Linked DNA regions of Homo sapiens. The protein of the gene in region 2 purifies or fractionates together with the protein of the main gene of each other region. This does not show direct contact. Each region holds a gene or a part of one and is shown on either strand. Other genes may lie near its edges. The genes, in order: WDR12 and SEPHS1.

Region 1 (16,196 bases), on a different chromosome or scaffold from region 2:
CGTTATCACACAGTTAGGGAATGAATATTCCTCATCATTTTGGTTAACAGAAAGTTATATATAAAATATTACCTAGATTACCAATCTCTAAAAATAAAAAATAAAACATAAACTATATTAGAAAACTAAAATCTAAGTAATTTAAAATCTTGCTATCTTTAAGGTCATCATTATAAATATTTATCATTTTATCATAGCTATGAAAAATTGCTTACTGTTAGTTGTAGGAGAGTTATGACATTACATTTACATTATGAAGGAGGGAAGGATAAAGTAAACACATGATAAACGCACATACATTTCAGCCATGTTTATTCTCTTAATTTCATTTTTCTACCAAAAATGTTTCTGGTTTTTTTGAGTTTTTAAAATCTTTGTTATACATCACTTGGTTAAGCAGCAAACCCAGATTGAAAACTACATAAAATATGCAACATTAAATATGTAATGTATGTTACATTATATGTTATATATAGTAACATGCATATTATGTTACATTAAATATGTAACAAAATATGTAAAACATTAAAACGTTTTGTGGCTTTTATGGATATTAATATTTCTCAAACTAGATTATAAACCACTTAAAGTTAATAGCTAATCATATACAATCTCATTTACTCAGCCCTATCAAAAAATAAAAAATTCTACTAAAGAATTTTCTAAACTAAATCACTTTTTGCCACCAAATTATTTGCTTTCATCATTTTTGTAAAATCTACTAAAACGGATTATATATTTCCCACCATCTTACACATAATTATTCAAAACTGGTTAAGCTTTTCTTGATCCCCCTCAAGTCTTTGTGAAATGCATTTGGGGTATTATACTGTGTAACACAGCAATTACCTAAAAAGTAACAGAGGTATTCTGATTTGTTTACCTATGCAATAAATAGTTGTAGCTACTAGGTCTTAAAATGTAAGTATCTATGGGTGTGTGTTTTTTCCTCTTTTCTTCTCATCAGTGTCTTCTTACTACTATGAAAGCACCTTCCTCTCAAAGTCCTTCCTCCTCCTCCCTCAATTTGCTCCTTTTAATCTATGCTTTCAGAGTAAAAATATTAATATTGGTAAAACTGCATTGAAAAATTTTTTTAAGTAAACCAGCTTACCTAAGAAATTAACAGTAAAATGACTCAAAAGTCATTCTTACATTACTTAAGTCAAAATGGCTCGGAAAGTATTTTTATTTACTTCCAAGTTTCCTGAATAAGAGAACTTTGAGAATCAAGGTATTTATGTCCTATTGCACCAAACATGTTTTTGATACTTGCAATTCAGTGACACTATCCTGTAAGTAAGGGGGTGGTGGGGTAGGAAAAAAAAAATCTTGAAACACAAAGAAATATATGAATTTGTTGCCATACTGGTCTCTTTTTATGGCAAAATATGGGTTAAAAAGTCCCCTTTCACTAAACTGATTTTTTTTTTTTGAGACAGGTTCTCACTCCATCACCCTGGCTGAAGTGCAGTGGCATGGTATCATAGCTCACTGAAACCTCAAACTCCTAGGCTCAAACAATCCCCTTACCTCAGCCTCCCAAGGAGCTAGGACTACCGGTGCATACCACCACACCTTGCTAATTTTAATTTTCTACTTTTAGTAGAGACGGGGTCTCACTATGTGGCCTAGGCTGCTCTTGAACTCGTGGCCTCAAGTGATCCTTCTACCCTGGCTTCCTGAAGTGCTGAGATTATAGGCGTAAGCCACCATATAGCCTCCGAATTTAAATTTTTGAAACAACATTATTAAGTCAAGGTAAAATAAATATTTAATTTACCTGTAGACCAGATCTTTAGCATCTTATCCCAGGAGCCACTGCAAAACTAAACAGATGTATATGAAGGGAAAAGACATATGTAATATGATTCATATTATTTGCCTACAACAGTAGGTCTCTTCCTCATTCAGGACCTTTTCAAAGAACTTGTGTTCCACAGAACTGAAATTAGCCTTTTTCCAGGGGCAGATAGGACAGAACATAAAATCTGGGAAATCTTGAAGGCCAAGCTTATTGCCATGTCTTTTGAAGAAAGCCAATCTGAAGTGAGAGAGAATAAAGTCAACTTGAGGGACAAGACAGCGAGAGGGTGTGCGGACCACATTCAAGCCTCTATTCCACTGGTTCCTGAGGCCCAAATGCACCATTACCCTTCTTGTGATGTGGTTGTTCAATCTTTCCTTGGATCTCACAATCCATTTACTTTTAAGGTTAAATAAGTTCAAGTTGAGTTTCTATCTCTCCTTAACCAAAAAGAAGAGGTACAGTTAATCCACTAAAGTTTGGACTAAACAACATATAAAACTTTTCGGCTCAATATGAAAAATCATAAATCTTCACCTTTGAATACAAGCATCCTGTTACCCTAACTGTCAAAGAAACACTCTTAAGTCCAGAATACTTCAATGTGGCTTAGGAAACTTTCAAATTCTAAGTGGATTTATAACCCTTCATATTAATAAATCAATATGGTATTGCCCTCAGGTTTGTTACCTTTTAACTAACTTTTACCATTTTGTCATGATAAAGAGTAGATTGATACTATAGTAAAACTCTATTAGCACTAACTTTAGTGTATGCTAATGCTCAGACTATCAACTAGGCGTTTTCAGTTGATGACAGCACTTAAGAGTAGCTGATATAGACTGGAAATATGTCAATTACTATGAGGTAAGAAGGTTATATAAATGAATGGCTTGTTTACTTCATTTCTTTCTTTTTTTTTTTTTTTTTTTTTGAGACTGAGTTTCACTCTTGTTGGGCCCAGGCTGGAGTGCAACGGTGCAATCTCGGTCACTGCAACCTCTGTCTCCCGGGTTCAAGTGATTCTCCTACCTCAGCCTCCCGAGTAGCTGGGATTACAGGCATGCGCCACCATGCCCGGCTTATTTTTTTTTTTTTTTTTTTTAGTAGAGACAGGGTTTCTCCATGTGGGTCAGGCTGGTCTTGAACTCCTGACCTCAGGTGATCTGCCCGCCTCGGCCTCCCAAAGTGCTGGGATTACAGGCGTGAGCCACCGCGCCCGGCCCATACCTCATTTCTTAAAATTTCTGGAGTTTATATAAGGTTCTAAACCAGGGATTCAAACTGAGCAAGTGACTATCTCCTATTGTATGAGTATTTACTCTTGCTTTGAAATCCTATCTTTTGTCACCGATTGTTAGGAAACTAGGCCAACACAATGAATATATGCAGAAGAAAATGTTTAGCAACAAGCTCAAATTCAAATTTAACAGAGTACTAATAATATTCTAGCTACTTACTTTAGTTCCTGAGCCATCAACAGCTATAGAATCTACACTTCCAGCATGACCTCTACAGCAGTGTAGGGCTTTCACTTTGTTTCTCTCTACATTCCACTCCCATAAGAGAATAGTCTGATCCATAGAAGCACTCAATAATAAGCAGGACAAACTATCTGGAGAAAGGAGAACACAAGAATAAGAAACAAATCAGTATACCATTTAGAATACATCATGTTCTGAAACCAAAGAACTAAATTTTTTTGTTGTTATTGAAAAAGATGTTAAAAAGATAACTCATATGGCCAGGTTTTAAAAGGCTGATGTGGTATAAAGAAAAGATTCTTCAAAAATAGATGACGATGACTGGGTGTGGTGGCTCACGCCTGTAAATACTGACATTTTGGGAGGCCAACACAGGCAGATCACTTGAGGTCAGGAGTTTGAGACCAGCCTGGCCAACATGGCAAAACCCTGCCTCTACTAAAAATATAAAAATTAGCCGGGTGTGGTGGCAGGCGCCTGTAATTGCAGCCACTCAGGAGGCTGAGGCAGGAGAATCACTTGAACTCAGGAGGTGGAAGTTGCAGTGAGTTGAGATGGAGCCACTACACTCTAGCCTGGGCGACAGAGTGAGACTCTGCCTCAAAAAACAAACAAACAGGCTGGGTGCAGTGGCTCACGCCTGTAATCCCAGCACTTTGGGAGGCCAAGGCGGGTGGATCATGATGTCAGGAGTTCGAGATCAGCCTGGCCAAGATGGTGAAACCCCGTCTCTACTAAAAATACAAAAATTAGCCAGGCGTGATGGTAGGTGCCTGTAGTCCCAGCTACTCGAGAGGCTGAGGCAGGAGAATCGCTTGAACCTGGGAAGTGGATGTTGCAGTGAGCCGAGATCATGCCACTGCACGCTAGCCTGGGTGACACAGCGAGACTATCTCAAAAACAAAACAAAACAAAACAAAACAAAACAAACAAACAAAAACAGAAGAAAATAAAAGATGAATGTAATACATTCAATATTAACTTGAAAATGTATATTATCTGATGTAATTTTAATAAAGATACACTTCTAACAATTTATGAATTTTTTATATAATCTTTTTCTTCTTGAACACTGTATTTTTTGAAAGACCTCATAATAACTGAGGTATGAGATACTTCCCACCCACTCCCCATTCTTCCCCAGCACCAAAAATGGCTTATTTCCAAATCCCTATCTAGGATTCCTCTAAGTGTAGGCAAACTGTCCTAACCTTTTTTCACCCAGGCCACATCTTTTACAACATCCGTATGTCCCACAATTGTCATTATTGACTTTCCTTCCAAGGACCAGATCCGAGAAGTCTTATCATAAGAACCAGTCAAGATCCTATGAGAAAAAAAAATCTTATGAAACACAAAAAGCAGTTTTTCCAAACCCTGAAATGTTTCTTTGGCAATGACAAAGTAACTTTGAGGATTATACTTTTAAACTCTTTTTTGATATGAAGATTGAGATTTCAAGCCATACTAGATCAGATCACTTGACGTTTCTCAACCTCCTAAAAATAATACCTGGCATGGCTGGGCGTGGTGGCTCACGCCTGTAATCCCAGCACTTTGGGAGGCTGAGGCAGGCGGATCACGAGGTCAGGAGATCGAGACCATTCTGGCTAACACAGTGAAACCCTGTCTCTACTAAAAATACAAAAAATTAGCCAGGCATGGTGGCGGGTGCCTGTAGTCTCAGCTACTCAGGAGGCTGGGGCAGGAGAATGGCGTGAACCCAGGAGGCAGAGCTTGCAGTGAGCCGAGATTGCGCCACTGCACACCAGCCTGGGTGACAGAGCGAGACTCCGTTTCAAAAAAAAAAAAAAAAAAAAATATATATATATATATAAAAAATATATATCATATATATACATAGTATAAAATTACTTTCAGGCTAGGTGTATAAGCTGTATATGAAACATAAATGAATTTCATGTTTAGACTTGGATCACATCCCTAAAATATTTCACTATGTATATGTTAATATTCCAAAACCACCCCCACCCAAAAAAAATCCTACATCCAAAATACTTCTGGTACCAAACATTTCCAGATAAGGAATACCCAACCTGTAGTACTCTTTTTTCTTTTTGAGATGGAGTCTTGCTCTGTTGCCCAGGCTGGAAGGCAGTGGCGCGATCTCAGCTCACTGCAACCTCTGCCTCCTGGGTTCAAGTGATTCTCCTGCCTCAGCCTCCCGAGTAACTGGGACTATGGGCACAGACCGCCATACCTGGCTAATTTTTTATATTTTTGGTAGAGACAGGTTTCAATATTTTGGCCAGGCTGGTCTCAAACTTCTGATCTCAAGTGATCCACCTGCCTTAGGCTCCCAAAGTGCTGTGATTACAGGCGTGAGCCACGCGCCTGGCTGTCCACCTGAAGTATTTTGTACTTAACCAGTGAAAACCATTTAAACTAAAAGTAAAACTAGGAGAAATATAACTTTATGTAATAACTCCAAGAAGGCATTCTTTGAAAGAAGCTCCTACCATAATCTACTCTTGAGTTGTTTTCCTACAAGTAAGGCCAGTGAGGATTTGCCCTAAGATATCTGTACCTTCTTTGCTGAGTCCAGTCTGCTCCTTCTAGCCCTAAAATAGTATGCTATGCATCTTTAAGGTATTAGGCCAGGAGATCTATGGCTATAAAAGTTACTTTTTTCCTTTATGAAACAAACTATATCCTTGGTCTTAAAAGCAACATAATCGAACCAAATAAATTAAATGCTCTAAGATACATGACTTATTCAGAAGACAAATATTGCTGGGTGTAGAGAAATCCCACCTATTCAGGAGGCTGAGGCAGGAGGACTGCTTGAGCCCAGGAGTTTGCGACCAGCCTGGGCAAGAGAGAGAGACCCCGTTTAAAAAAAAAAAAAAAAAGGCAACAATAATTGTTACTACCACATATTGAACAGAACAGAAAAAGAGTACCTATTAATAAATACCTGTGGTTTTTTTTTTTTTTTTTTTTTTTTTTTTGAGACAGAGTCTCATTCTGTTGCCCAGGCTTGAGTGCAGTGGGGCCATCTCAGCTCACTGCAAGCTCCACCTCCCAGGTTCACGCCATTCTCCTGCCTCAGCCTCCCAAGTAGCGGGGACTACAGGCGCCCACCACCACGCCCGGCTAATTTTTTGTACTTTTTTAGTAGAGACAGGGTTTCACCATGTTAGCCAGGATGGTCTCGATCTCCCAACCTCGTAATCCACCCTCCTCGGCCTCCCAAAGTGCTGGGATTACAGGCATGAGCCACTGCACCCAGCCACCTGTTTCTTCTTGAAGACACTGAATGAAAAGATCTTTCTGTTTGCCATGGCCACTGATACAGAGATCACAAAATTAATTTACAAATAACATTAAATCACAGAAAAATATGTATATATGGATTTAAAAAGACTGAAGGAGGTAAAAACAAAACAAAAAAAAGAGAAGGGCATTAATCTGGCAATACCATTCCTCTGCCCCTTTAATTGAACTGATCCAGTCATCATGGAACATGCATTGCTCTGGCTGGGGTGCAGTATACTTCTCCACGTATTCTATTTCCACAACTTCTTCCTAATCACAAGAGAAACCAGCAACAAGTCAGGTGGTCTAGTTTTAAAATATTACATTATGAAGATAACCCCCAATTTAATATATCTCCTTTATATCCTTCATATTAGTCCCCTTTATAACTCAGCAAATTTGGAGCCATTCAAAAAGTCAAGAACTTTATTTGACCTAACTGTAAGCTAAGAGTGATATTAGGAAATAATAGCTTGGCATGGTGACTCACACCTGTAGTCCCAGCTATTAACATTAGGAAAGCTGGGGCAGGAGGACTGCTTCAGCCTAGGAGTTCAAGTCCAGCCCAGGCAACAAAGCAAGACCCTGTCTCCTAACAAAAATTTTAAAAAGAAGAAATATTAATCGCCTTGTACAACTTATGCTGCAAATGGGGGGGAAAGGAATATAAGAAAGCCTTAGGCCAGGTGCAGTGGCTCACACCCATAACCCCAGCACTTTGGGAGGCCGAGACGGGTGGATCACCTAAGATCAGGAGTTCAAGATGTGCCTGGCCAACATGGTGAAACTCTGTCTCTACTGAAGATACAAAAATTAGCCAGGCGTGGTGGCAGATGCCTGCAATCCCACTACTTTGGAGGCTGAGGCGCAAGAATCATTTGTACCCAGGAGGTAGAGGTTTCAGTGAGCCAAGACTGTGCCATTGCACTCCAGCCTGGGCAACAGATGGAGACTCTGTCTCAGAAAAAAAAAAAAAAAAGAAGATAAAAGAAAACATTAAAATTAAGAAAAAAAGCACATTGTTTAATGGGTACAGGTCTTCTGTTTAGGATAAGGAAACAATTCTGGAAAATGGTGATGGTTGCATAATACTGCAAAGGCACTTAATGCCACTGAATTGTATACTTAAAAATGGTTAAAATTCTAAATTTTATGTTATGTATATTTTACCACAATTTTTAAAATCACAAAACAAGCAACAATTATAAGTTATATTTTTAATCATAAAAGCAATATAAGGAAACTTTGAAAATAAAAGGGAAAAATAACAGTAACTTAACCCATAGTTTTTATATTTGCCCAGTTATTTTGTGCACCAGTATTTGTACACACATATTTGCTATTCCCTTTCTTGCCAGTTCTTCCACAAATATAAAGAATGTGTTCATTTATTTCTTGAATAAAACACTCTCACAAAAAAAGAGGGCTTCAAAATTGAATATACAGGAATATACATATATATATACACACACACTATATATATTCAATACACACATAAAATATACACACAATACATAACACACACAACATATATAGCCAATATATTAAAAAGAATCTTTGCTACTAAAGATAGATTCAGTGTGATTCTAAAAGGAGTTTACCTACAATAGCCGATAATGCCTCAAGTGAAATACAGAAGATAAGAATTTGAACTTACTGATGAGATGTTCTCCATTTCCATGTGTTTGTCCAAGGGCATTCGCAGAAACTGGCCCTTAATAAGGAAATCAAACTCCACATGTTTGTGGAACTCTGAGGAAAATACATAACAAAATTATCACTCTTAGTGTCTAAAGTAATATTGGCAGAGGTATATGAGAACTCCCAAAACAAACAGGTACCTATTATCCCAGTGTGGCCTGAGTTTCTCTGTGATTTTTAAGATCAGAAATACTTTGTTCTGTTAGTATAATGTCTTTTTACTGTTGTTGGTGTAATTATTTTGGTTTAGAAAACTTTTATTATTTCAAACATACACAAAAGTAGAAATAACAATGAATCTCATCACTATTGCCCATTTTGACATCCACCAACTAATGGGACATCATCTATATTCCACCCTCCATTCCCCGGCTGGTTTATTTTAAAGCAAATCTCAGAAATTATATCATTTCATCTGTAAATACTTTAGTATGTATCTCTAAAATATAAGGACTTCAAAAATTTGTCACAATATTTTAAAATTTAACAATCACTCCTTCTAACATCAAATAGTCAATGTTCTTTTACAGTGAGCTTTCAAAAATCAGCATCCATAATCCATACATTATATTTGATTAATGTTTCTTTTAATCTTTAACAGTTCCTCCTCCTTTTTCTCCTTGCCATGTATTTGTTGATGAAAGTGGGTCATCTGTTTTGTAACATTCTGGGTTTTGTTGACTCCATCTCCAAGGTGTCCTTTAACATGCTTCTTTATCACACAAATATCCTATAAACTAGTCAGAGGTAAATGGTAAATGCCTGGTTAGATTTCAGGGTTTTTTGGGTTTTTTTTGACAAGAATATTCACAGGCAGTATTGTCTATTTCCTGTTACATCCCATCAGGATGTAAATAGGTTCTGGTTGTGTCTCTTTTTAAGATATTAAGACCCATCATAGGGCTTGGATTATATCAGTCTGATTCTATCCACCATAATGCTCCTTGTCAGTCTTTTACCTAATTATCGGGATTAACAGCTATTGAGAACCAATACTGTACTTACATTCATTTCTTTCAGAGTTGCAATATGGTAACAGTCTATACAGAAGGAATAATGTTCGGTCTATATGTTTAGAAAAATGTTACCCAACTATTTGGGTAACATACTGGAATTGCAAAGCTTCTCTTACAGGAATAATTCTTTCCTCAACAAAATACTTGCAAACCAAATTCAACAACACATTAAGAAGATCATCATGACCAAGTAAGATTTATCCCAGGGATGCAAGAATAGTTCAACATACACAAATCAATGTAATACACTGTGATGGTTAACACTGAGTGTCAACTTGATTGGATTGAAGGATGCAAAGTATTGTTCCTGGGTGTGTCTGTGAAGGTGATGCCAAACGAGATGAACATTTGAGACAGTGGAATGGAAGAGGCAGACCTACCCTCTATCTGGGTAGGTACCATCTAATCAGCTGCCAGCATGGCTAGGATAAAAGGAGGCAGAGGAATGTGGAAGGACTAGACTGGATCAGTCTTCAGGCCTTTATCTTACTCCTGTGCTTCCTGCCCTCAAACATTGAACTCCAAGTTCTACAGCTTTTGGATTCTTGGACCAGTGGTTTGCCAGGGATTCTCAGGTGTTTGGCCATAGACTGAAGGCTGTACTGCCGGCTTCCCTACTTTTGAGGTTTTGGGACTCGGACTGGCCTCCTTGCTCCTCATCTTGCAGACAGCCTATCGTAGGACTTCATCTTGTGATCGTGTGAGTCAATACTCCTTAATAAACTCCCTCTCGGCTGTGCGCAGTGGCTCACACCTGTAATCCCAGTACTTTGGGAGGCCAAGAGTTCAAGACCAGCCTGACCAGCATGGTGAAACCCCGTCTCTACTAAAACTACAAAAATTAGCCAGCCGGGTGTGGTGGCACGCGCCTGTAATCCCAGCTACTCGGGAGGCTGAAGCAGGAGAATTGCTTGAACCCGGGAGGTGGAGGTTGCAGTGAGCCGAGATCGTGCCACTGCACTCCAGCCTGGGCGACAGAGCAAGACTCCGTCTCAAAAAAAACCAAAAAAACAAAAAATCTCTCTTTCATATATACATCTATTCTATTAGTCCTGTCCCTCTAAAGAACCCTAATATATACATCATATCAACAGAATGAAGGACAAAAAGCATATGATCATTTCAATTGATGCTGAAAAAGCATTTGATAAAATTCAACATCCTTTCATGATAAAAGCCCTCAAAAAACTGGGTATAGAAAAACATACTTCAACATAATAAAATTCATATATAATAGACCCCCATACTAAATGGGGAAAAAACTGAAAGCCTTTCCTCTAACATCTGGAACATGATAAGGATGCCCACTTTTACCACTGTTATTCAACACAGCAATGGAAGTCCTAGCTAGAGCAATCAGATGGAAGGAAGGAAGGAAGGAAGGAAGGAAGGAAGGAAGGAAGGAAGGAAGGAAGGAAGTGAGGGAGGGAGGGAGGGAGGGAGGAAGGGCATCCAAATTGGAGAGGAAGATGTCACATTATCCTTGTTTGCAGATGATTTGATCTTATATTTGGAAAAATCAATGATATAACGTTATATTTGATATAATCTTTATTTTACCAAAAACCAATTAGGACTGATAAATTCAGTAAAGTTGCATGATACAAAAATCAGTAGCATTTCTATATGCTAACAGCGAACAATCAGAAAAAGAAATCAAGAAAGTATTTCTACTTACAGTAGCCACAAATAAAATACCTAGGAATTAACCAAAGAAGTGAAAGATCTCTACAACAAAAACTATAAAACATCGATGAAAGACATTGAAGAGGGCTGGGTGCAGTGGCTCATGCCTGTAATCCCAGAACTTTGGGAGGCTGAGACGGGTGGATCACCTGAGGTCAGGAGCTCGTGACCAGCCTGGCCAACATGGTGAAACCAAGGCTGTACTAAAAATACAAAAATTAGCTGGGCGTGGTGGCAGGCACCTGTAATCCCAGCTACTCAGGAGGCTGAGGCAGGAGAATCGCTTGAAACCGGGAGGTGGAGGTCGCCATGAGGTGAGATTACGCAATTGCACTCCAACCTGGGCAACAAGAGTGAAACTCTGTCTCAAAAAAAAAAAAAAAAAAAAAAAAAAGAAAAGAAAAAGAAAAAAAGAAATTGAAGAGGACACAAAAAAATGGAAAGATATTCCAGGATCATGGATTGGAAGAATTTAATATTGTTAAAATGTCCATAGTACCCAAAGCAACCTACAGATTCAATGCAATCCTTATCAAAATACCAATGACATTCTTCACAGAAAAAAAAAAATCCTAAAATTTACATGGAACCACAAAAGAACCAGAATAGCCAAAGCTACCTTAAGCAAAAAGAACAAACTTGGAGGAATCACATTACCTGACTTCAAATTATACTACAGAGCTATAGTAACCAAAACAGCATGGTACTGGCATAAAAACAGACACATACACCAATGGAACAGAATAGAGAAGCCAAAACAAATCCACACATCTACAGTGAACTCAAACCTACACTGGGGAACAGCCAGTCTCTTCAATAATGGTGCTGGAAAAACTGGGTATCCATATGCAAAAAAAATGAAACTAGACCCCTATCTCTTGCCACATACAAAAGTCAAAACAAAAGGGATTAAAGACTTAAATATTTGTAAGACCTCGAACTATGAAACTAATACAAGAAAACATTGGGGAAACTCCCCAGGGCAGTGGTCTGGGCAAAAATTTCTTGAGTAATACCACACAAGCACAGGCAATCAAAGCAGAAATAGACAAATGCGATCCCATCAGGTTAAAAAGCACAGCAAAGGAAACAATTAACAAAGTGAAGAGACAACCCACAGAATGGGAATAATTATTTGCCAACTACCCATCTGACAAGGGATTAATAACCAGAATATATAAGGAGCTCAAAAAGCTCTGTAGGTAAAAATTTAATAATCTGATTAAAAATTGGGCAAAAGGTTTGAACATACATTTCTCAAAAGAAAATTCAAATGGCAAACAGGTAAATGAAAGGGTGCTCACCATCACTGATCATCAGTGAAATACAAATCAAAACTACAATGAGATATCATTTCACCCCAGATAAAATGGCGTTTTTCCCCACCCCTCCCAAGACGGAGTCCTGCTCTGTCACCCAGGTTGGAGTGCAGTGGCACGAGCTCGGCTCACTACAACTTCCGCCTCCCGGGTTCAAGCAATTCTCCTGCTTCAGCCTCCTGAGTAGCTGGGTTTACAGGCACCTGCCACCATGCCTGGCTAATTTTTGTATTTGTAGTAGAGATGGGGTTTACTATTTTGCCCAGGCTGGTCTCAAATTCTTGACTTCATGATCCACCCACCTTGGCCTCCCAAAGTGCTGGGATTACAGGCGTGGGCCACCACGCCAGGCCAAAATGGCTTTTATCTGAAAGTCACGCCATAAAAAATGCTGGTGAGGATATGGAGAAAAGGGACCCCTCATAAACCTTGGTGGGGATGTCAATTAGTACAACTACTATGGAGAACAGTTTGGAGATTCCTCAAAAAACTAAAAATAGAGCTACCATATGATCCAGCAATAGCACTGCTAGGTATATACTCAAAAGTAGAGAAATCAGGAAATCAATACTTCTACACAATGGAGTACTATTCAGCCATAAAAAAGAATGAGATCCTGTCATTTACAACAACATGGGTAGAATTGGAGGTCATTATGTTCAGTGAAATAAGCCAGGCACAGAAAACAAACTTTGCATATTCTCACTTATTTGTGGGAGCTAAAAATTAAAACATTGAACTCATGGAGATACAGAGTAGAAGGAGAGTTACCAGACACTGAGAAGGGTAGTGGGGGAAGTGAGAGGCAAGTGGAAATGGATGGTTAATGGGTACAAAAGAATTGAAAGAATAAATAAGATCTTGTATTTGATAGCACAACTGGATGACTATAGTCAATAATTTAATTATACATTTAAAAACAACGAAGAGTATAATTGGATTGTTTGTAACACAAAGGATAAATGCTTGAGGTGATGGATACCTCATTTACCCTGATGTGATTATTACACCTTATATGCCTGTATCAAAATATCTAATGTACCCCATAGATACACCTACCACGTACCTACAAAAATTAAAAAGAATATTTCTTATTCTAGTTCAAAGACTTGTTCAACAAATAGACTATATAACAGTTTTGAAATTTATAAAGGTAACTATGCATCAGAATCTCTATATATCCATGATGAAAACAAAAACAAGGAGCAACAGGAAATGCTATGTAAATATCCTTGAATATTGAATATTGAACTGTAACTAGCAATAAAAAGATTGCAAACCCTGTCCCCTCCTCCCCCACCCCAAGCCAATAAAGTTGCTCAAAAACATCACCTCAAATTTCACAAAAAAATTATGTGATTATTTGAAGACGAAGATGGGGAAAATACTACACATTAGTTTATAACTCTTACCTCCTCATTCCTCCAACTACGGTAGAGTCAGAAGAGCTCTGCAGCATTGGAAACATCTGCATAAAAATACACTTGCCTCTGGCTGGGCATGGTGGCTCACACATGTAATCCCAGCACTTTGGGAGGCCCAGGAGGGTGGATCACCTGAGGTCAGGAGTTCGAGACCAGCCTCGCCAAATGGTGAAACCCCGTTTCTACTAAAAGTACAAAAAATTAGCCAGGCATGGTAGCGGGCACCTGTAATTCCAGCTACTCTGGAGGATGAGGCAGGAGAATCACTTAATGTTTCATGTTTAAATTTTCTCTATTTTATGTAATGTTTCTTTACTTTTTAAAAAATACTTTATTATAGAAAATTTCATACATATGGAAAAGTTCAGAAATATCAATCAAAACTACAATGAGATACAGAAAATAATATAAGGAGCCTCCTTACACCTATCACCAAACTTCAACATTTTTTTTTTTTTTGAGACTTCCTCTATCACCCAGGCTGGAGTGCAATGGTGCGATCTTGGCTCACTGCAACCTCCGCCTCCCGGGTTCAAGCAATTCTCCTGCCTCAGCCTCCTTAGCAGCTGAGATTACAGGCATGTGCCACCACGCCTGGCTGATTTTTGTATTTTTAGTAGAGACGGGGTTTCACCATGTTGGTCAGGCTGGTCTCAAACTCCTGACCTCGTGATCCACCCGCCTCGGCCTCCCAAAGTGCTGGGATTACAAACTTCAACAATTATTAACTCATAGCCAATCTTATTTCATTGATATTTTTACATACATTGTTCATATTAATTTAATGGGCAAATAACTTATATTAGTACAATAGTATATATTTAATATTTGTATCTTTTAAATGTTTTATATTCTTCCATGTTTTGTTATATCCTTTTTTTATGAATTCTGGACACAAAAAATAAAATACTGGTATTCATACTGTCATTTTGATATTACACTAAACACTCAAATACTGATATTGTCATTTTGCTTTGTGCTTCACTAGTAAATGGGGCCTAAGCACTAAAACGCTTGTTTTATGCCTGCATAACTCAGCCCTCTGTAGAACAATCAATGTCTTGATTACCTCTATATTACAACTTTATACCAAAATCTTTATTCCTTAACTACAACCACCATATTTCCACATGGCCTTAAAAACAGATTAAACAGAAATTTTTTTCTGAAAACTTTTCTTTCAAAGCAGTATTTACAGTATCATCCAGCAGAAGAACCTGTACTTTATAACTTACAAATTTTACCACTACAAAATTCATACAGTATCATAAGGCCAAAAAAGGAACTAAAAACTTAATGCATTTTAGAATAATTAGGGACACTGTGCCCTCTCCTAAGCATATATACCCACCATTTTTGTCCTTTAGTAGTTTATTGATGATGTTACTAAGGTCGGCAATTTCAGAGGCAGCAGGGATTGAGAAGGGAACATCATCTACGGCATATCTATAAAAAGGAAATGATATGTCAAGATCAAGTCTACAGATATTTGAACAAACATGCTTTTACGAATTCAACATACATTTATTGGGTAAATAAATGCCAGACATCCAGACATTTTGCTACATGTTGTAAACAAAAATGAATTAAAACATGGTCTCTGTTCTAAGATGAGGTTGAAGTTTAGTAATCAAATAGAATGAAGTTATATAAGAACAATGCCATTAGGTGACATGTATAAAAAGAACAAAGACACCATAGGTCATTTTAACCACAGAAAAGGAGGGCAGGGGAGCAGGGCCAGAAACGATCCACAGAAAAGATAACTGTTAAGCAACATTTAGAAAAGTGATTAGCCAGGCGTGGTGGCATGTGCCCGTAGTCCCAGCTACTTGGGAGGCTGAGGTGGGAGGACTGCCTGAGCCCAGGAGGTCGAGGCTGCAGTGAGCTGAGATTATACCACTGCACTGCACTCCAGCCTGGGTGACACAGCAAGACCCTGTCTCAAAAGAGAAGTGAGTTTTTGCCAGGTGAGGGAAGGGTAGGCTGGAAGAAGCAGTGTGGACGAAACCAGAGAGAACATCAAAACAATAGCTAGGAGTTGTTAAACTGCCCAGCCACTTCCAGAAAATCTGACTTTGCTCCAAAGTGACCAAAGGCTAAAGAGATACACATGGAGTGCTTTATATATCATGTGAAATCATTTTTACTTCTTTTTTGTGGGTAATGAAGAACTATCACAGCAGTGCAAATTAGAAGTATCATCAGATTTTATTTAGTTAGATCTTTCTGGCTGCACAATGGGCACTGAAATAGAGGAACACATGACAGGAGGCAGATTAGGAGACTCTTATAAGAGAGACTGTGAGAAAATATTTGCAAATCATGTATCTAATAAGGAACTTGTATCTAGACTATATTAAGAACACTTACAACTCAATAATAAAAAGACAACACAAATTTTAAAATGGCCCAATAGGGACATGCAAATGCTCATCATTAGTCATCCAGGTAATGTTAATCAAACACAATGAAATATA
Region 2 (16,196 bases):
TCCTCTAATAAATTACTGCACATCTAAGAAAAAAGAAAAATGGCATTTTAAAGACATAATATCCTATTGCATTCTTTTTTATTCTGTATCATTCTCTTTTCTTTTTTTTTTTTTTTTAAGGCAGAATCTCGCTCTGTCACCCAGGCTGGAGTGCAGTGGCGCAATCTCGGCTCACTGCAACCTCTGTCTCCCAGGTTCAAGTGATTCTCCTGGCTCAGCCTCCCAAGCAGCTGGGATTAAAGGCATGGACCACCACGCCCAGCTACTTTTTTTTTGTATTTTTAGTGAAGATGGGGTTTCACCATGTTGGCCAGGCTGGTCTTCAACTCCTGATCTCACGTGATGTGCCTGCCTCAGCCTCCTGAGGTGCCAGTATTACAGGCAAGAGCCACCACACCTGGCCCCTTTTCTCTCTATCATTCTTAAAACAACGTTAGACAATTTTCAAGGAAAAAAATATCACCTGTTCAAAGTAACCTAGGGGTATTACAGTTAATTTCAAATGCGAAGCTTTCAGTAAAAACTGAATGCTACCTTATTTCCCCCATCACCATATCCTTGCATCAAAAAGAGCACAGGCCACTCAACCTCAGCAAGGCTGCTGGATCCACCCAGGATGGCGGGGACCAGACCCACCGGGAGGAGGAAAGGCACCAGCTGCTGCGGAGGCCGAGGTCAGCAGCATGGAACTCGAACAGAGTGGGGGCCCACTCGGGGTGGGGCTGCTGCTTTCTCGCTGAGCTTTCTGTTAGCCTCACTATTTAGTCCTCAGATGCGCCCAGCATCCTGTACCTGAAGTCTCCGGGCAGGTCCCGTGCATGAGGCCGAACATGTTTCCGCAGGCCTTGCTCACCGCAGCCATCTTGGCCAGCACCGGGAGGTTGTGAATTACAAACGACACCTCGTTCCTCTGCTGCTTGGCCAGGTTCTGCGCATGGCCCAAAATCCCGAAGCCCGTGATGTCAGTGGCGGCGTGGGCATTGAACGTGTGCATGAGTCCTGCAGCTGGGAGAGAGAGGGGGCGGCTCTGAGAAAAAACACCTTTCCTCAACTCAAAAATCTTACGTCCACAATTAATCTGCAACTTCCTTACTTGTCAGGGAGATGACGTATCGGAATAATGAAAACGCAATGTAAAATCAACCAAAGACATAGTGAAATTCCAAAAGTTCTTATTTCACTTTGAGCCACCTGAAAACTATCAGAAGCTTCAATTAATAGTAGTTTTCCAGTAAACTAAAAAAACTATGCAGAGGGATTATGATCTCAGTGGAAGGTAAACCGGCCAAGACCATCCTAAAACCAAAGACCGGCACTTTTTTCCTTTTTTGAGATGGAGTCTCGCTCTGTCATCCAGGCTGGGGTGCAGTCGTACGATCTCGGCTCACTGCAACCTCTGCCTCCAGGGCTCAAGTGATTCTCCTGCCTCAGCCTCCTGAATAGCTGGGACTACAGGTGCGCACCACCACGCCCAGCTAATTTCTGTATTTTTAGCAGAGACAGGGTTTCACCATATTGGCCAGGCTGATCTTGAACTCCTGACCTCATGATCCGCCCGCCCTGGCCTCCCAAAGTGCTGGGATTACAGATGTGAGCCACCACACCCGGCCAAGACCAGCACTTTTTAAGAAGGCCTTGCTCAGTATCAAGGTACTCCCGCGAAAGGTGAATTGCGTGCAAGTTTATTTTTAAATTTCTTTCTTTTTTTTTTTTTTAAGAGACAGAGTCTTGCTCTATTGACCAGGCTGGAGTGCAGTGGCATGATCATAACTCACTGCACTTGGGCTCAGGCAATCGTCCTGCCTCAGCCTCCCAAAGCGCTGGGATCACAAGTGTGAGCCACTGCTCAATAATATTCCATACTACAGATACACTACATTTTGTTTATCCATTCATCCACTCACCTACTATTATTTAATTATCCATTCACCCGACCTATTATTTAATTTTAAAAAAATTTACAGACTTTATTTTTTGGAGCAGTTTTGCGTTTAGAAAGAAATTAAGTGGGAAGTAACAAATCCTCAGTGCTCTGCTCTACCTGATCCCCTTCCTCTCCGATAACCTCTGGCCACCACTGATCCTTTCTGCATCTCTACAGTTTTGCAGAATGTCATGCAGTTGGAATCCTTCTGTATGGAGCTTTTTCAGACTGGCTTCTTTCACTTAGTAATATGCACTTAAGATTCCTCCACATCTTTTCATGGCTTGATAGCTCATTTCTTTTTACTGCTCAATTATATTCCATCATACAGATACACTACATTTTGTTTATCCATTCATCCACTCACCTACTGAAGAAATGAATGGCTGCTTCCAAGTTCTGGCAATTATGAATAATGCTGCTATGAACATTTGTCTGCAGGCTTTTGTGTGAATGTAAGTTTTCAACTTTTTTGAGTGAATATCAAGGAGCACAATCGCTGCATCATATAATAACATATTTAGTTTCATAAGAAACTGCCAAACTGACTTTTAAAGTGGCTGTGCCAGTTTTCAGTCCTACCAGTAATAAATGAGAGTTCCTTCCTGTTTCTCTACATCCTTGCCAGCAGTTGGTATTATCAGTGTTTTTGGGTTTTTTTTGAGACAGGGTCTCGCTTTGTCACCCAGGCTGGAGTGAGGTGGTGCGATCACAGCTTACTGCAGCCTCGACCTCCTGGGCTCAAGGGATCCTCCCAACCTCAGCTTCCCAAGTAGCTGGGACTAAGGCGCAAGCCACCATGCCCAGCTAATTTTTTGTATTTTTTTGGTAGAGATGGGGTTTCACCATGTTGCCCAGGCTATTCTCAGTGTTTTGGATTTTAGCCATTCTAACAGGTATGTGGTGGCATCTCAATCACTGCTTTAATCTACAGTTCCCTATTGACGTACCACACTGAAGGTTTCCTTTTATGCTTATTTGCCATCTGCGTTATCTTCTTTCATGGTGTCTGTCAAGGTCTTTGGGCCATGTTTAAATTGAGTTGTTTTTTATTATTGAGTTTTAAGAGTCCTTTGTATATTTTGGATACCTGACCTTGAACAGGTATGTGTTTGGCAAAATTTTTCTCCCAGTCTGTGGCTTGTCTTTTCATTTCCTTAACAGTGTTTTTCACCGAGCAGAAGTTTTTTATATTAATAAAGCCAAACTTAGCAATTTTTTAATAGATAGTGCTTTTGGTGTTATAAAGTCATCACCAAACCCAAAGCCACCTCAATTTTCTCTGATGTTACCTTCTTCCAGTTTTATATTGTTGTGTTTTATTTAGGTCTACGAATCATCAATATGGTCTGGCTCTGTGTCCCCACCTAAATCTCATCTCGAATTGTAATCCCCACATGTCAAGAGAGGGACCTGGTGGGAGGTGACTGAATCATGAGGGCGGTTTCCCTCGTGCTGTTCTCGTCAGGGTGAATGAATTCTCATGAGATCTGATGGTTTTGTAAGTGGCAGTTTCCCCTGCTCTTCTCTGTCCTGCTGCCTCATGAAGAACCTAGGTGCCTGTTTCCCCTTCACCATCTGCCACGACTGTAAGTTTCCTGAGGTCTCCCCAGCCATGTGAAACTGTGAGTAAATTAAACCTCTTTCCTTTATAAATTACCCAGTCAGCTGGGCATGGTGGCTCACGCCTGCAATTCCAGCACTTTGGGAGGCCAAGGTCAGGAGTTCAAGACCAGCCTGACCAACATGGTGAAACCCCGTCTCTACTAAAAATACCAAAATTAGTGGGGTGTGGTGGCGTGCGCCCTGTAATCCCAGCTACTCCAGAGGCTGAGGCAGGAGAATCGCTTGAACCTGAGAGGCACAGGTTGCAGTGAGCCGAGATCACCCCACTGCACTCCAGCCTGGGCGACAGCGAGACTCCGTCTCAAAAAAAAAAAAAAAAAAAAAAAAAAAAAAAAAAAAAAGAGACTCAGTCTCAAAAAAAAAAAAAAAAAATAATAATAATAATAATAAATGAATAAATAAATTATCCAGTCTTGGCTATTTATAGCAGTGTGAAAACACACTAAACATTCATTTTGAGTTAATCTTCACGAAAGGTATAAGATCTGCATCCAGAATAATTTTCTTCATGTGAATGTCCACTTGTTCCAGCACCATTTGGTGAAAAGACTCTTTTCTCCAATGAATTGCCTTTACTCCTTTGTCAAAAATCAGTTGACTAGGCCAGGTGCAGTGGCTCACGCCTGTAATCCCAGTACTTTGGGAGGCCGAGACAGGCGGATCACAAGGTCAGGGGTTCAAGACTAGCCTGGCCAACATGGTGAAAACCCATCTCTACTAAAAATACAAAAATTAGCCAGGCGTGGTGGCGGGCGCCTATAATCCCAGCTACTTGGGAGGCTGTGGCAGAAGAATCACTTGAAGTCGGAAGGCGGAGGTTGCGGTGAGCCAAGATCCTGCCACTGCACTTCAGCCTGGGCGAAAGAGCAAAACTCCATCTCAAAAAAAAAAAAAAAATCAGTTGACTATAATATGGACCTACCTCTGGATTCTCTATTCTGTTCCTCTGATCTATAACTTTTTTTTTTTTTTTGAGACATGATCTCACCCTGTCACCCAGGCTGAAGCGTAGGGGTATGATCACCACTCACTGCAGTCTCAACATCCTGGGCTCAAGTAATCCTCCCACCTCAGCCTCTCGAGTAGCTTAGACTACAGGAATGCACCAGGCGCAGCTAAAGAGACGAGATGGGGTCTCACTATGTTGCCTAGGCTGGTCTCCAACTGCTGGACTCAAGTGATCCTCCTGCCTCAACCTCCCAAAGTGCTGGATTATAGGTGTGAGCCACTGTGCCTGGCTATAACTTTCTTACAAGTAACAACAAATTACAGAAAATTTTTATTTCCAAATGAATTGTAAAACAATAGGTAAAAGATAATTGTGGTACATTTCTCTGGTAGAACATTATCTAGTCATTAAAAATTATGTGTACTATGGCTCACGCCTATAATCCTAGCACCTTGGGAGGCCAAGGAGGGTAGATCACCTGAGGTCAGGAGTTCGAGACCAGCCTGGCCAACATAGTGAAACCCTGTCTCTACCAAAAATACAAAAATCCGCCGGGCATGGTGATGATGCGTGCCTGTAGTCCCAGCTACTGGGAAGGCTGAGGCAACAGAACTGCTTGAACCTGGTAGGTAGCGGTTGCAGTGAGCCGAGATCACACCAATGGACTCCAGCCTGGGCGACAGAGTTAGATTCTGTCTCAAAAAAAAAAAAAAAAAAAAAAAAAAAGTTTACTAGGATACATAATATGGGAAACATTAGTCATGTCAAAACAACAAAAGCAGGCACTCCAAATACATATACTAACCATTACATAGTGAAAACTTATACTAACCACTACTTTAAAACAACAATAGTAAATCACCAGCCAAACATGAAAAAAAGTCCTGGAAGAATACATAAAAATGCTAGCCGGAGCTGTTTTGGGTGGAGGGACTATGGACAACTTTTTTCTGTACTATTTTCCATTTTCTAAAAACTTTTCTATAATAAGCATGTAATTCTTTTATAGTAGAAAAAATGTATAAAATAAATGGGAAGAGAAGACATATTAAAAAACGCTTTCTAAACATAGTGTGCCATTGTAAACTGTGGTGAACACTTTGGAAGACAGTTTGGCACTATCTATAAAAGCTGAGCCAGTACTGATCTCTTACACGTGCCTCAGAGGGCTGGGCCAAGGAAGTCCATAGCAGTCGCCCCAGTGTGAAACAGGAGAGCAGAGAAGCCAGTGGAAAAATCAACACAGCCAAAAGGAATCTACTACAGCTACATATAACAAGGAGACTCTCAGGAACAATGGTGAACAAAACAAGTAAAAAAAATGCAAAACTAATTTGCTGCTTAAGAACACAAGGGCTGTGCAATAAAAATATTCTAAAATGCAAGAAAATAAACACAAAATTCAGTGGTTACACCTAAGCAGGAATGCAGGGGATGGGTGGGAGTGGGGGCACTTCTAGACTTCCAAGGTTATGTTCTGGAAATAGCTCCAGTATCTTAAACTTTCTAAATTTCCATTCTGAATGGTTTGCTTCCAAATCTTACATAGGTAACCCACACAAACGCTTTCTAGAAATAGTTCCTCTGGTATGTCAGAAGTTAGGACTTCCTTCTTAATTATAAAGCACTGTAAGTCAGGGACCATCTGCAGTGATCTATGGAATGCCAACCTGGTACCAGGAGAAGACGGTCTGTAGTCACTGGCCAAAAATCTGGCCACCTACCCTGAGACAGTATGTGGCCAGAAAAGCCTAAGACATTTACTGTCTTGGACCCCTGGGACCGAAGCGCCCTTCCCACCTGTCATACCTGTCCTGTTGAGCCTCGCCATGTTCATCATCGCCTCCTGGTAGGCCAGCTCTACATCTTCTTGGGTGACCACTAGTTTAATCTTATTCCATTTCTCAGGCTGATAATAGAAATGTAGGTGAGGGAGAGAAAGAGAGGAAAATGTGATTAATCTTTACTTCTAGCAACTGAGAAAAACAGCAACTTTTTCTTATTTAACTTCTAGGGACTTTAATTCAGAAAACTGAATTTTCCAACTCTGGTTTTTCTGTGGATAGTATTTTAGGTGTCCATTAGACCTGTCAGCATGGCGTCTTTTCTGTTCTCATCCCACATTTCTGTAATTAAGTGCTGTGATTTATTGGGTATGTGTAGTCTAGCGGGACACACGGCGGCACTGCTGTACATGCAGTGTAGTGTCCTGCTAGTGGAGAAGGGCTCCCCCATCCGTGACACTCCCTGCCTCACCTGCTTCCAGCTCCCTGCTAGCTCAGGCCTGGGAGGTGGGGCTGGAAGGCACCTCTGCGCAACATCCCCGCAGTGGCCTTCTGCTCTGCTCCCCATCACAGGGGGAGGAGGGAAAAACTGCTAAAGAACGTGGCAGCCTTAGAGAATTTCTCTACCCTGCGACATCAAGCTAAGATATACCAGGTTGATGAAAGACGTGTAATTATTGATTATTCTCTTTCAACTGTTTCTCAGGACTGGTAGTTTCAGATGATAGTTGTAGAAATTAAATGCACCATGATATGTGAGAATATACCCCAATCTTATTAATTTGTGAGTTGTTACGGCAATGAAGAAAACCAATCTTAAAGTATGATTATAGCTCACTGGAAAAATGACTCACAAGACATATCCTCATTATAGATAGATTCATTCTGCACAAGAGAATTATTTATCAAAATGTTCTGAGTTACTCATCAGTTTAAAAAGACAAAACTACCAAACAAAAACAACCAAAAACTGCATAAAACAATTTAAACTGTCAATAACCCTGGTTTTATTTATACCCCAAACACTACGCCTTCCACCAATTCTCCTTCATATTATTTCTTAGTGATGTTTAAGACATGAAAGACGAAGCTATCTCAGGGCCAAGTAAACAAAGCTAACCCCCTGCCGAGCAAATTCTTTACAGAAAAATCTTAAAGCTCCAAGCTGGGGCTTACCTACTGCAATCAAGCATTCAATATGCAAAACTGTTATTTAAAGACTATGAACAATTCCTAGGATTTCTTTAAGGACTTGACTAATATTAACTCCCTGGATATGAAACTAAAAAACCTCATTTCCCAAATCCTCCAACAAAAATTACCTGCAAACGTACCATTCCCCTCCCTCCCATCACAGCAGTGGTTTACTCACGATATCCAGCCACTGGTGCACAGCCACTGCCACCTGTGTCCCCAGGGGTTTTGTCAGCACCAGCACGTCCCCTGGCACTGCATTGTCTGGCCTGAAGAAAAGAAAAGGGCATGTTCTAGTCAAACTAACCAAGGAGATGAGCTCATTGTTATTAACACAAGAGAAGGAATAATCTGTCAAAAATATATCTGCCTTTGCATTTACTTAAATTGAAGCCAACTACCAGCATGTATGGGACAGAGCCTTGCAACCTGCTACTGAGGCTATTGCTGGAACAAAACATTCAGCCATCAGGCTGGACACAGTGGCTCATTTCTGTAACCCCAGCACTTTGAGAGGTCAAGAGGGGAGGATCACTTGAGCCCAGGAGTTCAGGACCAGCCTGGGCAACACAACAAGGACCCCATTTCAAAAATAATATACATATTTTTAAAAAGAATGAAACATTTAGCCTTCAAACGTTTCATCAGGCCCAGATTTCCCCTCGACCACATACGAGTGTATGTGTAATTTTCACTACAGACCCACTAGCATTCAAAAGCTTCTGAAACAGAGAGTGCTTCTTTATGATCACTGATATGCTAGAGACTCAGGACGGATTTTTCGGCCCAGGGGTTTGGTGGATTTGCAGGCAATCTGTGGGTCTAATGTCTTGGTGATTTCTGCCTCCAGGTTCTCAAACTCAGACTGACTGATGGTGAGTTTCCTACCTGGCACCCAGACGCCTTGGTGGTCCCTGTCTTAGAGACAGAAGGCAATACTAAAAAGGCACCTCTAAAAGATGACAACTGGTGCCCGAATGAAACATCTACCAGACTTGCATTCACACTACCAGGAAGCAGGTCTGAGAGTTGTGCCTTTCGCAGCTTCAGCAGCTGAGCTCCTGAATCGTTCCATTCCCCGATGCTGGCCTCCTCAGGTACTCACCCAAGTCGATGAAAACAAAGCCAGGGCCACAGACTTCAATACCAACACCCAGCTCCCCAGCTCAACCTATACCATTTGTATCCACTCTCAGCTTTGAAAAATAGAATTCTGTGACTACGCAAGAAACTTGTTTTCCAAAAACCAGACCTGAAGACATAAATGTCTTCGAATTCAGACTCAGTTGTACCATAAAGTTGATGTTCTTTTTTTTTAAATTTTTTAAAATTATACTTTAAGTTCTAGGGTACATGTACACAACATGCAGGTTTGATACATAGGTATACATGTGCCATGTTGGTTTGCTGTACCCATCAACCCGTCCTTTACATTAGGTATATCTCCTAATGCTATCCCTCCCCCAGCCCCCTACCCCCGACAGGCCCTGGTGTGTGATGTTACCCGCCCTGTGTCCAAGTGTTCTCATTGTTCAACTCCCACCTATGAGTGAGAACATGCGGCGTTTGGTTTTCTGTCCTTTTGATAGTTTGCTTAGAATGATGGTTTCCAGCTTCATCCATCTCCCTGCAAAGTACATGAACTCATCCTTTTTTACGGCTGCGTAGTATTCCACGGTGTGTATGTGCCACATTTTCTTAATCCAGTCTATCATTGATGGACATTTGAGTTGGTTCCAAGTCTTAGCTATTGTGAATAGTGCTGCAATAAACATATGTGTGCATGCGTCTTTACAGCAGCATGATTTATAATCCTTTGGGTATATACCCAGTAATGGGATTGCTGGGTCAAATGGTATTTCTAATTCTAGATCTTTTTTTTTTGAAACTGAGTTTCACTCTGTCACCCAGGCTGGAGTACAGTGGCACGATCTTGGCTCACTGCAACCTCCGCCTCCTGGGTTCAAACCACTCTCCTCAGTCTCCTGAGTAGCTGGGATTACAGGCGCCTGCCATCGTGCCCGGCTAATTTTTTGTATTTTTAGTAGAGACAGGGTTTCACCATGTTGGCCAGGGTGGTCTTGAACTCCTGACCTCAGATGATCCACCCGTCTTGGCTTCCCAAAGTGCTGGGATTACAGGCATGAGCCACCACGCCCGGCCAAAAGACTGACTTTTCTTAACAAGACATCAAACATGGAAAGTGACAACTTGGTTAGGAGAGAAACTTCTCCAAAGAAGATACACAAATGGGTAGTAAGCACATGAAAAGATGCTCGGCCTCATCAGTCATCAGGCAGACACAAATCAAAACCACAAAGACATTCCACTTCACACCCAGTAGGCTGGCTAGAATCCAAAAGACAGACAGGAAAACAAGTACTGGAGGGGTCATAGAGAAATTGGAATCCTCATACATTGCTGCTGGGAACGTAAAATGGCGCAGCCATGTTGGAGACCAGTCTGATGATTCCTCAAGTTAAACATAATTACCACATGACCCAGTCAATTCTTAGGTATACACCCAAGAGACCGGAACTTATGTCCACACAAAAACTTAGAATGTTCATGGCAGCATCATTCCTAATAGGTGGAAACAACCCAAAGGTCCGTCACCTGAGGAATGGCTAAATAAAGCAGGGTCCATCCATGCAATGGATTATACAGCCATGGAAAGGAATGCGATACCGATTCATGCTACAACACGGATGGACCCGGAAAACATTCCGCTATGGGAGTGAAGCCAGACACAGCATGTCATGCTGCACGATTCCATTTCTATACAATGTCCAGAACAGGCAAATCCTTAGAGACAAAAGCACATTCTTGGTTGCCAGAGGATGGGAGCAGGAGGGAAATGGGAGTGAGCTACAGGGCTTCTTTTTGGGGTGATGAAAACATTCTGGAATTGGATAGTGGTGATGGGTGCACAACCTTGTCAATACTAAAAACCAACACATTGTGTACTTCAAAATGCTGAATTCTATGTTATGTGAAATTTTGTTACGTGAATTATACTTCAACTAAAAAACCTAAAATGTCAGCCGGGCGCGGTGGCTCACGCCTGTAATCCCAGCACTTTGGGAGGCTGAGGCGGTCGGATCATGAGATCAGGAGATCGAGACCATCCTGCCTAACATGGTGAAACCCCATCTCTACTAAAAATACAAAAAATTAGCCGGGCATGGTGGCAGGTGCCTGTAGTCCCAGCTACTCGGGAAGCTGAGGCAGGAGAATGGCATGAACCCGGGAGATGGAGCTTGCAGTGAGCCGAGATCATACCACTGCACTCCAGCCTGGGCGACGGAGTAAGACTCCGTCTCAAAAAAAAAAAACAAAAACACCTAAAATGTCTTAAAAATAGGATTAAAATACTGACACATGCTACAAAATAGATGACCCTTAAAAGTATGCTAATACTATGCTAAGTGACAAAATCCAGGATGGAGCAGGAGTGAACAGTGAGAGCCGAGGAGGATGGGGTTTCTTCCTGTAGCAATGAAAACATCCTAACATCAACTCCGGTAATGGCTGTACAACTCTGAGTATACTCCAAACCACTGACTCTTTAAATGGGTGAATGGTATAGTACGCAAATTATATCTTAATACATCTATTTTTTTTTTTTTTTGAGATGGAGTTTCGCTCTTGTTGCCCAGGCTGGAGTGCAGTGGCGCGATCTTGGCTCACTGCAGCCGCAGCCTCCTGGGTTCAAGTGATTCTCCTGCCTCAGCCTCCCAAGTAGCTGGGATTACAGGCATGTACCATCATGCCTGGCTAATTGTGTATTTTTAGTAGAGATGGGGTTTCTCCATGTTGGTCAGGCTGGTCTCAAACTCCCAACCTCAGGTGATCCACCCGCCTTGGCCTCCAAAAGCGCTGGGATTACAGGCATGAGCAACCGCGCCCAGCCTTGCGTTCTTGTCTTTTTTTTTTTTGGAGACAGAATCTTGTTCTGTTGCCCAGGCTAGAGTGCAGGGGCATGATCTCAGCTCACTGCAACCTCCACCCCTGGGGTTCAAGCGATTCTCCTGCCTCAGCCTCCAGAGTAGCTGAAACTACAGGCTTGCCCCACCATGCCTGGCTAATTTTTGTATTTTTAGTAGAGACAGGGTTTCGCCACATTGGCCAGGCTGGTCTCAAACTCCTGACCTCAGGTGATCTGCCCGCCTCGGCCTACCAAAGTCTGGGATCATATGTGTGAGCCACTGCACCTGACCTTAATACATCAATTTTTAAAAAGAGAGGACAGAGAGAGAAAAACAGGTCAGGTGATATGAAACAAAAATCAACTTACATGATAAATTCATTGGGTTGGCAGACAGTGGTAGCCACTCCTCCCAGGACAATCCAGGGGTTTAGTACTGTTTGGCCGCCTGTTACAGATGTTCCTGCTTCCTCAGCTGCGTCTTTAAAACCTTGGATAATCAGAGGCATCACTTTATCCCTTTCCTAAGGTTGAAAAAGGTACAAATAAAAAGTCAAAGAATTCTGTTCAAAACCCAGAAAAGAAGGTTTTTACACTTACAGTTATAAAAAGAACCATAAAATCCTAAAGGAAGTCCTCAAAGTTTACAGACAGGGAAGGTTGTTAGGGGCCAGGCATAATCGCTCACGCCTGTAATCCCAGCACTTTGGGAGTCCGAGGTGGGCAGAGAGCTTGAGCCCAGGAGTTTAAGACCAGTCTGGGCAATGCAGACAGACCCCTTTCTCTACGAAACATGTAAAAATTGCTGGGTGACCGGGCACAGTGGCTCATGCCTGTATTCCCAGCACTTTGGGAGGCTGAGGCGGGCAGATCACCTGAGGTCAGGAGTTTGAGACCAGCCTGGCCAACATGGTGAAACCCCGTCTCTACTAAAAATACAAAAATTAGCCGGGTGTGGTAGCATGCGCCTGTAATCCCAGCTACTTGGGAGGCTGAGGCAGGAGAATCGCTTGAACCTGGGAGGCAGAGGTTGTAGTTAGCCAAGATCGCATCACTGCACTCCAGCCCTGGGCACAAGAGTGAGACTTCATCTCAAAAACAAAAAAAAAAAATATTGCTTGGTGTGGTGGCATGTGCCTGTGGTCCCAGCTATTCCGGAGGCTGAAGTGGGAGGATGTCTTGAGCCCGGGAGGCTGAGGCTGCTGCAGTGAGCTCTCATCACACCACTGCACTCCAACCTGGGCAACACAGGGAGATCTTGTCTCAAAAACAAACAAAAACAAAAGCTAGAAAATATTTCACATTGTCATCATTTTATCCAATGCTGGAAGATGTTCTAGACAACAATGTAAATAAAGCCCAGACACCAACATTGTCTGGACTCAGTGCACAGGACCAGCCCTAGGTCTGATGACTGCTGGAAGCCAGCTGTCCAGTGCTCCTTGAGAATCTCAAGACTGGCTTCCTAAGCACAGGTCCCCTGCCCTGCAGTAGGCATCCATCCTACCAAGGCTTGGCTGCAGGCTACGAGTAACCCACACTGACAGAGCCTGCGCCAAGACCACCATGCACCACTGATGACTACAGCCCATGTTCAAGGGCAGGAAAGAGCCTACTGGAAACTCAAGTTTCTCTAAGGCAGGGCAAACTGTTGGGGGCTCTTGGGACAAAAACAAGTACCTGTCTATCTAAATAGGAATTCATCTCTGGTTCAAAGAACAGGTTCAGGCAGCAAGGGCACAGAATGCTAGGCGATGACACAGAGGCGTGAGCCCCTGGTGGCCCTATCCCCCGTCACCATCTACGTCCACGACATCCCCAGCCACAGCAGAGGGAGTGCCCTCTAAGTGCCACGTGTCCCACATCTGTAAGGCTGTGCCTGATTCACACTGAGGCACCATTACTATGGCCAAAACTTTATTTTAAAAAATGCACAGGTCGGGCACGGTGGCTCATGCCTATAATCCCAGCACTTTGGGAGGCCGAAGTGGGTGGATCACGAGCTCAGGAGTTCGAGACCAGCCTGACCAACATGGTGAAACCCCATCTCTACTGAAAATATAAAAATTAGCTGGGGGTGCTGGTGTGCCCCTGTAATCCCAGCTACTTGGGAGGCTGAGGCAGGAGAATCGCTTGAACCTGGGAGGTGGAGGTTGCAGTGAGCTGAGCTTGTGCCACTACACTCTAGCCTGGGTGACAGAGTGAGACTCTGTCTCAATAAAACAAAAAAAAATATACACAAATGCCTTGGGCCGGGCACGGTGTTTCACGCCTGCAATCCCAGCACTTTGGGATGCCGAGATAGGTGGATTACCTGAGGTCAGGAGTTCAGGAACAGCCTGGCCAACGTGATAAAACCCCGTCTCTAATAAAAATACACAAAATAGCCAGGTGTGGTGGTACGTGCCTGTAATCCCAGCTACTTGGGAGGCTGAGGCAGGAGAATTGTTTGAACCCGGGAGGCGGAGGTTGCAGTGGACTGAGATTGCGCCACTACACTCCAGCCTGGGCGACAGAGTGAGACTCCTGTCTCAAAAAAAAAAAAAAAAAAAGTCTTGGTTTCAGTCTACTGGGAAGAGAGAAAGGGAGCAGGTGGCAGAAGTGCAGAGATGACTAGGCCAGGCTTCCTCATTTTAATTTACTGGTAACTGCCAAAAAGTGGAGAGCCAGAAGGAGTGCAGGGAGCCATATGGCCTGGGCTCCTCGCTTTCTAGATGGGAAACCAAGTCTAACCAAGGCCAGAGATGCCACCGGGACAACACGGACCAGGCAGCAGCCGGGTAGCTCCTACTTACCCTGTCGGTCATTTTATTACTGACTCCAAGGAGCATCAGCATATTGTCACATTCCGTGACCCCCATTGCATAGAGGTCACTGAGGACATTGGCACACGCTATCCTGCCCTGGGAAGAGAGGGAAACATGAGAAAGGACGACCGGGGACTTTCCATCTGCAGAAACTGAGTGAGCCATGGAGTGGACTCCACAGAGAACGTGGAGACTTTCCAGGAGTAGCAGCTACTAGGATGGGGTCCTCAGTTTCTATGATTTGCAGACTGGCAACCTTTCCTGCATCACAGAGTCACTAGGCCATTCGTTTTTTCTCAGACATTCCTGTTACCACCTCTTTCTTGTGCAGGACAAAGAATGTACCAGTTTTTCTCCATTCTAAATTTTAGAAGTCTGCAATTTATTTAGATAGGGGAAGGGGTATATGTGCAGCGAATGAGGAGGAGAAGCAAGTTTAGAACCGACAGTCTTGGGGGAAGAGCTATGGAGCGAAAAAGCCTGCAAACAACTCTCCTAAAGAAAAGTTGGAAACAGCCACATATCCCAAACAGATTCTAAAAATGGCTGGCTTTAGTGGTTATAGAGATGGAGATAGTCTTTGTGCACTTGGATTAAGAAATGTTTGCAGCTTAGGCTGGGTGTGATAGCTCACGCCTGTAATCCCAGCAATTTGAGAGGCCGAATCAGGTGGATCACTTGAGGCCAGGAGTTAAAGACCAGCCTGGCCAACATGGTAAAATGCTGTTTCTACTAAAAATATAAAAATTAGCTGGGCATGGTGGTGCACACCTGTAGTCTCAGCTACTTGGGAGCCTGAGGCATGAGAATTGCTTGAACCTGGGAGGTGGAGGTTGCAGTAAGCTGAGATCGTGCCACTGCACTCTAGCCTGGGCAACAGAGCAAGACTGTCAATAAACAACAACAAAAAAAAAACAAAAAAAATTTTTGTAGCTTCTTTTCAAGGATGTATGAGATAAACAGAAAAATCATCTTAAGAAACAAATAAAAAAATACCCAGGGCTGAAGTCATATTGTTTTCAAAAGAAAAAGAAGCATTTCCCAGTAAATGATGTCATTTTATTAGGAACTTTAAAATACAATTCAACAGAAATGTGGTAATGAAGATTTTTTTATTGCCACTGGAGATTTTTAAAAGTTAAGTTGCCCTTATCTAAATTTTTATCTTTTATAGACAATAAAGAGAAAATACAAATTTTCCTTCTGACATAAGGATAATCAAACTCCCAAGTGTTATCACTTCCAGTGGCTGTTTAATTGCTTGCTTTAGGCTTTCTTATACATTCCTGGAGGTCAGCAATGCAGCTCAACAACCATCTGTGGCCACACTTTCAGTATCATCAAGCCAGTCCACAAGGCCAACAGGTGGTCTACAACTCGCACAAGCCAATCGCTAGTTAGGGGGGTGGTGATTTAGCGCCCCTTCTGTTCTGGGTGCTCTCATTTTAGGAGATGCTGGAAAACAATGGACTGTGGTTTTAGCCATCCCTGCCACCTGGTCATGTGGGACCTGGGCTGTGGCTTACCTGCCCAGTCTCAAGAGTATTGCTCCAGAGGAGAAAACGGACAGATGTGCGGAAGAAATATAGGTTTCCAATAATCTGGTATTTGTCACTGGTACCTGAGGGTGAACACCCCCCACGTGGCTGCCTCATGATAAAGTCCCTACAGTGCAGCCTGATCCCACTGTCCTTGCCACACACGAAGAACACCTGGCATTTTATAGCAAACCAGATTTTCCTAGTCTCTCCACTGGCTCCTCCTGGGTGGTAGCAAATTGGGGTTAAAGGTTGGGTGGATCAAAGGGTGGCTGGCTGCAACTACGCAGTAAACAACTGGGGAACACACCTCAGCAGTGTATCATCAGTAGCCAGGAACTTTAACTCAGTGGTCAGAAACCTACTATGTACAGCGGCACATCACACGGTGGTGGGTGTGCAAGTGGCTGGGTTGAGTGAATTAACCAGATATCCGAATTAATGTT

What was found.
Region 1: the proteins of SEPHS1 (region 2) and WDR12 fractionate together in Homo sapiens (co-fractionation; 2 studies listed by BioGRID). This does not show direct contact.

What each region holds. Positions count from the first base shown.
Region 1 is NC_000002.12:202,892,798-202,908,993, forward strand, and holds part of WDR12 (ribosome biogenesis protein WDR12), read right to left. Parts: intron 15,163-16,196; coding exon 15,068-15,162; intron 8,323-15,067; coding exon 8,228-8,322; intron 6,841-8,227; coding exon 6,734-6,840; intron 4,619-6,733; coding exon 4,503-4,618; intron 3,423-4,502; coding exon 3,268-3,422; intron 1,830-3,267; coding exon 1,784-1,829; intron 1-1,783.
Region 2 is NC_000010.11:13,322,043-13,338,238, forward strand, and holds part of SEPHS1 (selenide, water dikinase 1), read right to left. Parts: intron 14,309-16,196; coding exon 14,201-14,308; intron 11,930-14,200; coding exon 11,775-11,929; intron 7,747-11,774; coding exon 7,656-7,746; intron 6,409-7,655; coding exon 6,309-6,408; intron 1,006-6,308; coding exon 793-1,005; intron 1-792. UniProt on the Homo sapiens protein: Synthesizes selenophosphate from selenide and ATP.